Linked DNA regions of Homo sapiens. The protein of the gene in region 2 purifies or fractionates together with the protein of the main gene of each other region. This does not show direct contact. Each region holds a gene or a part of one and is shown on either strand. Other genes may lie near its edges.

Evidence for each region. The genes of interacting proteins can lie anywhere in the genome.
Region 1: the proteins of PTPRQ (region 2) and AHI1 purify together in Homo sapiens (affinity purification with mass spectrometry, with the first as the bait; one large-scale study listed by BioGRID). This does not show direct contact.

What each region holds. Positions count from the first base shown.
Region 1 is NC_000006.12:135,456,236-135,459,852, reverse strand, and holds part of AHI1 (jouberin), read left to right. Parts: intron 1-2,139; coding exon 2,140-2,359; intron 2,360-3,617. UniProt on the Homo sapiens protein: Involved in vesicle trafficking and required for ciliogenesis, formation of primary non-motile cilium, and recruitment of RAB8A to the basal body of primary cilium.
Region 2 is NC_000012.12:80,442,704-80,447,103, forward strand, and holds the start of PTPRQ (phosphatidylinositol phosphatase PTPRQ precursor), read left to right. Parts: upstream 1-1,531; 5' UTR 1,532-1,642; coding exon 1,643-1,696; intron 1,697-2,037; coding exon 2,038-2,146; intron 2,147-2,787; coding exon 2,788-3,014; intron 3,015-4,400.

The sequences.
Region 1 (3,617 bases), on a different chromosome or scaffold from region 2:
TAACGATAGTTTTATCGCTTCTTTTTCAGTCCTTATGCCTTATCATTTTGCTTGCCTTGATACAAATCAAGATTTAATCTCTTTATTATCAATCTTTTTTTTTTTTTTTTTTACTTCTGTCAGCTATTTGATATACTGTAGTTTTTGAGGGATGTGTCTATTTCATCCAAATTTTGCATTTCTATAGCATCTGAAAGGCTGTCCCATGTTTTCATTCATGGTATTGGCAGTTTGTTTTCTCTCAATTTCTTGATCAGCCTTAGGATTTTAAATTTATGAGTCTTTTCAAAAACCAACCTTTAGCTTTGATTTTCTCTGTTGTACATTTATGTACTATTTTAGTGATTTTTTTTCTTGTAACTGTATTTTCCTTCTTTGTACTTATTTGGGTTTGATTTGCTACTTATTTCTAGCTTTAAAATTGGGTTTTATAAGAAAGATTTCAGTCTTCTTTTATATGCATTTAAGACTAAATTCCCATTTAAGTACTACTTTACCTGCATCTCCAAAATTTTTAATATTGTGTGTTTTTATTATTTAACACAAAATATTTTCTAATTTCCATTTTAATTGATCATTATTTAGAAGTATGTTGCTTAGTTTCAGGCAGCAGATGCTTTTCTAGTTATCTTTTATTGGTTTCTGTCTTCCATTGTTGTCAGATAACATATTATGAATGATTTCAATCCTCTGAGTTTATTGAGGCCTTTTTAATGACCATTTTATGGTCAGATTTGGTAAATATTCCATGCTCATTTGAAAAGAATGCAATTTCTAATGTTGAGTGCAGTGTCCTATGTATGTCAGTTAGGTCAAGTTTAATTGTGCTCAGTTCTTCTTATTAATTTTTTTGGTCTACTTATTCTGTCAGCTGTTGAGAGAGGTATTAACATTTCCATTCCGATTTTCAGTTTATTTTTCTTGTATCTCTTGTCAAGTTATCACTTTTATCATAATGCAGCGCCCTTCTTTATCTCTAATAATTCATAGCCCTAAATACGATGGGAGATCCAGTTTTGCCCTTCAGTGCTTTTCCACTTAGCCATTTAGTCTTCTGTCTCATGCTGCTTCAAAATTTGGCAAATTCTTTGAGCAGGAGACTGGCTATATGTTAGACATCCTTCAGGTATCCATTTTTGTCACTGTAGCCCCCAAGCATGCCAAAATATCCGCTGGTTTCTCTGTCCCTCAGTAGCAACCTTCTGCCAGAAATCACACCTGGATTATCAACCTAGAACTGTGACCAGAATTGGTAGATGACCCCAGATGAAAAGTTGCTCTTGGTCCTTAGTGTAAATTGACCACACCCTCCAGGGCTTCACCTTTGCCTATTTTGTTTTGGTCCCCTTCCCCTGGCAGATCATGGTCTGCTAGCACCACAAGCCTGGGAGATTTCACTACCTCTCTAGCTTCTCTGTAGCATCAGAATTCAGTTTTGTGAGAAGAATTGGTCATGTGTTTGAGGCTTCTCAAATCTCCAGTTTTATCATTTTAGTCCTGTGGAATCACTAAAAGTTTTGCTTATTTCTCATTCTCCTGGCAGTGACTTTCTGCCTAAGCCAAACTCTCATCTTCAGCTCACACCCTGAATCAGCAAATGTCCCCAGAGACAAAAACAGCTGCCAGTCCATCAGCTGACCTCTGACTGATTCTCCCTTTCTGGAATTTTAATCTGTCTACTATATCTTCTTTCTGTACTTTTCTGATGCCTTTAAAATTTAAAATAAGATATTTGTAATTTATTTGGCTCTTTCCAGTTGTTACCCAAAGTGTTTACCTGCTGCATCCTACTGCATCCCACCCAGAATTAGAAATTCTAGTTGTCATATATATTCTACTTAGAAAATACCTGGATAAAGTTACTTTTCTGACTTTGACTCTCTTTTTTTTCTTTTTGTGTTTCTCCTACTTATTAGGAAAAATATAAACAAGGATTTTTCACCTTATTTGTAATGTATTAGCAAATGTAGTATTTTACTTTCACACTATGGTTTGCTGTTGTCTGGCTTTTTCTTTCTTTCCCCCTGAAGTTCCTTTGAACACAGTGAGATCATCACAGATCTTAAAGATTAGGTTATATGTAAATACTACTATGGGAACAACTAATTATAACATTGATTTTTTTTTCCATGCGTGTAGTTGCAGATAATAATGAAGATGTTGATGGTGATGGTGTTCATGAAATAACAAGCCGAGATAGCCCGGTTTATCCCAAATGTTTGCTTGATGATGACCTTGTCTTGGGAGTTTACATTCACCGAACTGATAGACTTAAGTCAGATTTTATGATTTCTCACCCAATGGTAAAAATTCATGTGGTTGATGAGCATACTGGTCAATATGTCAAGAAAGATGATAGGTAATTTTTTTTAATTGCACAACTAATTCTTGAAACTGAAACTAGTAGAAGTCTTTTTTCTGCCATTGGTAGTTGAAAGTCAGTGGGAATAGAGTTATGGATTTGTATTAGAGAATAGTCTACTAGTTGTAGGTGTTCATCAGTCATTAACATTGATCAGAATGTTGTAGAAGAAATGGAGAACATCTAATTCAGTAATTACTTTTTTTCCGAGATGGAGTCTCGCTTTGTCGCCCAGGCTGGAATGCAGTGCTCAATCTTGGCTCACTGCAACCTCTGCCTCCTGGGTTCAAGCGATTCTACTGCCTCAGCCTCCCAAGTAGCTGGGATTACAGGCACTCGCCACCACTCCTGGCTAATTTTTGTATTTTTAGTGGAGGCGGGGTTTGGCCAGGATGATCTCGAACTCCTGACCTCAGGCGATCTACCTGCCTCACCCTCCCAAAGTGCTGGGATTACAGGCATGACCCACCGTGCCTGGCTCAGTAATTACTTTTAAGTGGAAGGGAATAATTCATTTTAAGTGGTAGAGAGCTTCTGCCAGCTTAGTAGATGTAATTTATGACATAAAGTTGCATTGTAAATATTTTATATTGCATTGTAAATGCTTTAATTGTCTAACCTCATATTTTTCTTTTGAAAGTAATGTTATCTGGGCTTCAGGTAAGGTAAATGAATCTTGAATGTTTTTTCTAAGAGTACTTCTATAGCTAATGCATGCTTGAAATCCCAAATGAAAAGTACAATGAAATACACATTTATACTAGAATTTTTTAAAAAATTGTTTGGAAAGCCAGTGGGGAATGGAAACAGGAAGATTGTCCAAAAAAAGCCCATTCACCTATTCATTTGCCTTAGGGCACACAAAGAAAATATGACAACTCAAAGGGTTTACAGTCTTGTGCCTTTTTTATGTAAAATCAATTTTATGTCTTTTTTTTTTTTTTTTGAGACAATATCTCACTGCGTCTCACTGGCTGGAGTGCAGTGGTGCAATCACAGCTTACTACAGCCTCAACCTCCCTGGGCTCAGGTGATCCTCCCACCTCAGACTCCCACGTAGCTGGGACTGCAGACATGTGCCACCATGCCCAGCTAACTTTTTTTCTATTTTTTGTAGAAACGAGGTTTCATCATGTTACCCAGGCTGGTCCCAAACTCCTGAGCTCAAGCAGTCCACCTGCCTCAGCCTCCCAAAGTGCTGGGGTTACAGGCTTGAGCCGCTGTGCCTGGCAATGTCTATTTTATTATAAACTCT
Region 2 (4,400 bases):
AAAGGCGATAAAGAAAAACTATTTCAGAAACGCTCTTCCCTGAAACACCAAGAAAGTGACCTATTATGTTAATATTTTTGTTATATGCAATGTGCCCTGTTAGTTTTGTTAGAAAATGTACATTTTATTATATCCATTTTCAAATCGTTTCTGGTAGTGGGGTTTTAAAATGATAAATGAGGTTCAAAATTAATTCCAGCCTCCTTTCTTTTAGAAACAGTGTTAGATTGAATCTGCATCAGGCGTGTTTTCACATGCTTGGCTTCATAATCTCTCTTCCTCCCCCTATATTGTTTGCCTGGAATCTGCACTAAAGATAAGGCAGAGTGCAAACCTGACTCATTGGCAACCAATCAGAAGAACTTTATGTGGAAAACTCCCTTCGAGGAGGTACAGGCAGCATGAACAAAATTTTTGAAAAAGTGGAAGCAAAGGTAGAAAAATATGGTTGAAATGGCTAAAACAATTGGTACTTGTTTTAAAACTATATTTCATTTCTGATATGAAACCTTATCTTTTCTTTTAAAGAAACACCTAACAAAATATTTATCAGATCAGCACCACAGTAAAGGGAAAAAGACATTAAAAATTAAAAAAGATAAAATAACAAATATTTATCAGAAATGCTCACCCTTCAAAAAATCTGGAAGATTTTGATTATATATTTTTCCAATTATCTTCTGTTTGGTAAATTTCCAAGTAATTGGATAAATAGTTTATATTTACTTTGTTTTAAAATGACTCAAATTTTCAATTAGAGCATAAGCTTTCAAAAACAATCTGGTCAACTAGCAGACTTTTAGCAAATAAGACATATTTCAGAAACAGAAAATTAATTGTTATATTATTTATGATAGTTATACCTAAAACCTAGGTGTTGTTAAATATTTACATGTTTAACACCCAAGTATACTTAGAGATCATTTATTGTACTCAGTGATTTCTAACAACATGATTATTTTGGAACTTGAACCTATACTATTTGTTTTCATTTTTTTGAAACTTTAGGAGAATAACTTTATTTTAAACCTCTATTTTTCAATATCAGAACCAGAACAACCTGAGAAACTTAGAGCCTTCAATATTTCCACACATTCCTTTTCTCTGCACTGGAGCCTACCCTCTGGTCATGTGGAAAGGTATCAAGTGGATCTTGTTCCTGACAGTGGCTTTGTTACTATCAGAGATCTTGGAGGTGGAGAATATCAGGTATAGTTTTCATTATTGTACTTGCCGAGCCTACTTGTATTTATATTTTGCTCCTAATAGGAAAGTTCTTTATTTTATGAAACCCATCTACCACAAAAACTTACTCCTTGTTGGGTTTTTGAAAGCATAAGTTGAAGACAAAAACGTTGATGTCAAACTGATGAGTGTTAAGTTTCAGCATTGGTGGACTGTTACCTTAGCAACATCTATGCTGCTTTTTTTTTTTTTTTTTTTTTTTAAGTTCACCCTGAACCTACAGCCAGTCATCCAAGGGTTCATGAATAGTTTAACAAAGAAAAGGCAGAGCTATTGAGTAATATGGGCTCATTAATTGTGTACTTGCCAGAAGGATCTGTCTTTAAATCATTAATGCAGGCAACATTTCTCTCTAGAGCCATCAATGTGATTCTACTGGCTGAAAAATGTAATAAAGATGGATTTTCTTATCATTTTTCTTTTACTTTTTATTGGGACTTCAGAGACACAGGTATTTCGTATACACTCTTTAAAAACAAGGGCTAAGTCATGGGCTGTAGATTTCTCAAGACTTGAATAGTTGTTCCTTGTGACAGTGAACTAGGATAGATAGAAATGCTGACTTAGGCTGTGATAACGCAGTACGTTTTGTAAGTTTTTATTTTAAAGTCATTTGGTAAAAAGTTATATAACATATTTGTATCTTACAATAATATGGAACTTATTGTGATGTTATAAACAGTGCAGAGTTATATAGTGAAGAGTTAATTTTTGTTATAGTGATAGATTTATTTTAGCTTGCTTGCTTTCCAGAAAGAATTTTAATGCAACTATTTGTTTGTGGTGTTCTAGGTTGATGTTTCCAATGTCGTTCCTGGTACTAGGTACGATATAACCATCTCTTCAATTTCTACAACATACACCTCACCTGTTACTAGAATAGTGACAACAAATGTAACAAGTGAGTATATGTTTTAAATTACTTTGTAAGTAAAGTATTTGGAGTCAGTATAATTCTACTGGATGGAAATACTTATACTGGCAACATGTACATTAAATTCATGAAAACAGTGTAGAATAAGGCAAAATGGAAACAAGAAAGTGATCTGCTTAGAACCTGCATTCTGCTGTTTCTTCAGCTTCCTTTACTTTCAAAGTGCAAAGATAATTACTCTATACTTGTTTGTGAAATAGATCAGAGAGACTGTTAATGCTAACATTTAAATAATACAGAACCATGAAAATGAACTGGCTACATTTGCTCAGGAAGGATTATTCCATTTGTAAGATTATTTCTTGTTTTCTTAGTTTTTCTGTGTAAGCCTTGCGTAAGTGAATTTCTTTTAAAAATGATTTGGCAACAAAAGTATATTCGGCATGTAGTATTTATTTAGTAGCATTCCATTTTTCACATTCTTATAAAGGAATGCTTTTGGTATTCCACATAGTATTTTTTTAATAGTAACAGAGCTGTAGGGAGTGTGAACTCATATTGCTCTTTGGAAATTTCAAATTTTACATTTATAAATACTGTTATTATGTATTTTTGTGAAAATGCAATAATTATTTGACCTTTTAACAAAATGGATTTTTTAAAAATAGAACCAGGGCCTCCAGTCTTCCTAGCCGGGGAAAGAGTCGGATCTGCTGGGATTCTTCTGTCTTGGAATACACCACCTAATCCAAATGGAAGGATTATATCTTACATTGTCAAATATAAGGAAGTTTGTCCGTGGATGCAAACAGTATATACACAAGTCAGATCAAAGCCAGACAGTCTGGAAGTTCTTCTTACTAATCTTAATCCTGGAACAACATATGAAATTAAGGTAATTATTTTGTGTATGACTACTTAGTGTTCAAACATTTCATTCATTTTAAAAGTGTGGGAGGTTTTTCTCACCTTGTCAAGCCTTTACAGCTGAATACAGTCAGTGACTGACAACGTTCACAGTCATGGCCTCACACCCACCTGAGATTTTAAAACTTGGTAAAATGTTATTGTGTCTTTTCATTTCAATTTTATGCATATTTATATATTACCTATTTCATTTTTTCTATGAATATTTTTGCATATATTTATATACATGTATGAATATAATACAATACTCTAGGAAATAAAAATTATGTAAAGTTAAAGAAGGAAAACTTAAATGCAAACAAGAGGCCAGGGTAGTTTGAATGCAGGTATGTAAACCACAGGATGTTACACAGTTATTAAAAATTGACTTGCAAACTTTATTCTCCAAATTCCTAGAAACCACAGTAAAAAGGGCAATAAATCTGTTATACAATTTACGTATGAAAATTGTATAATAATTGCATATGGGAGCTCAAGTTTTTTTTTTTTTTGGTGCTTTAGACTGGAAAGAAAGTCTTCGTTGAAGGATTAATAGCTGCAGGACTGGATTTTGTAAACTTCTTTCCATAACAGTAAAATAATAAAAGTATACTTAGTAAAAATAATTTTGCCAGGTTTTGAGATATTGTGGTCTAAGAACATGGCCTTGTTCTGTATATAAAATTTAGACTCCAATGAAATGTCTTTTTTTTAAATTATTTTTGATTCAGGGGACATGTGTGCAGGTTTGTTACGTGGGTATATTGTGTAATGGTGGGGTTTGGGCTTCTAGTATACCCATCACCCAAATAGTAAACATTGTACCCAATAGGTAATTTTTCAATCCTCACCCTCTCCTACCCTCCCCATTTTTGAAATCCCGTGTTTATTATTTCCATTGTTATGCCCATGTGTACTCATAGCTCCCACTTGTAAGTGAGAATGTGTGGTATTTGATTTTCTATTTTTGAATTATTTCACTTAGGATATGTTCTCCAGCTCCATCCATGTTGCTGCAAAGAACATGATTTTATTTTTTATGCCTGCATAGTATTCCATGGTGTATATATACCACATTTTCTTTACCCATATGATAGATACTTAGGTTGATTCCATGACCTTGCTATTGTGAATAATGCTGTAATAAACATGAGTGATGGTGTCTTTGTGATACAATGATTTCTTTTCCTGGATAGATACATAGCAGTGAGATTGCTGGGTTGAATACGGTAGATCTATTTTCAGGTCTTTGAGAAATCTCCGTACTGTTTCTCATAGAGGTTACATTTCTAGCAACAGTGTATTAGTGTTCCCTTTTCTCTGCATCCACACTGCCATCTGTTTTTTTGACTTTTTAATAGTAGCCATTCTGATT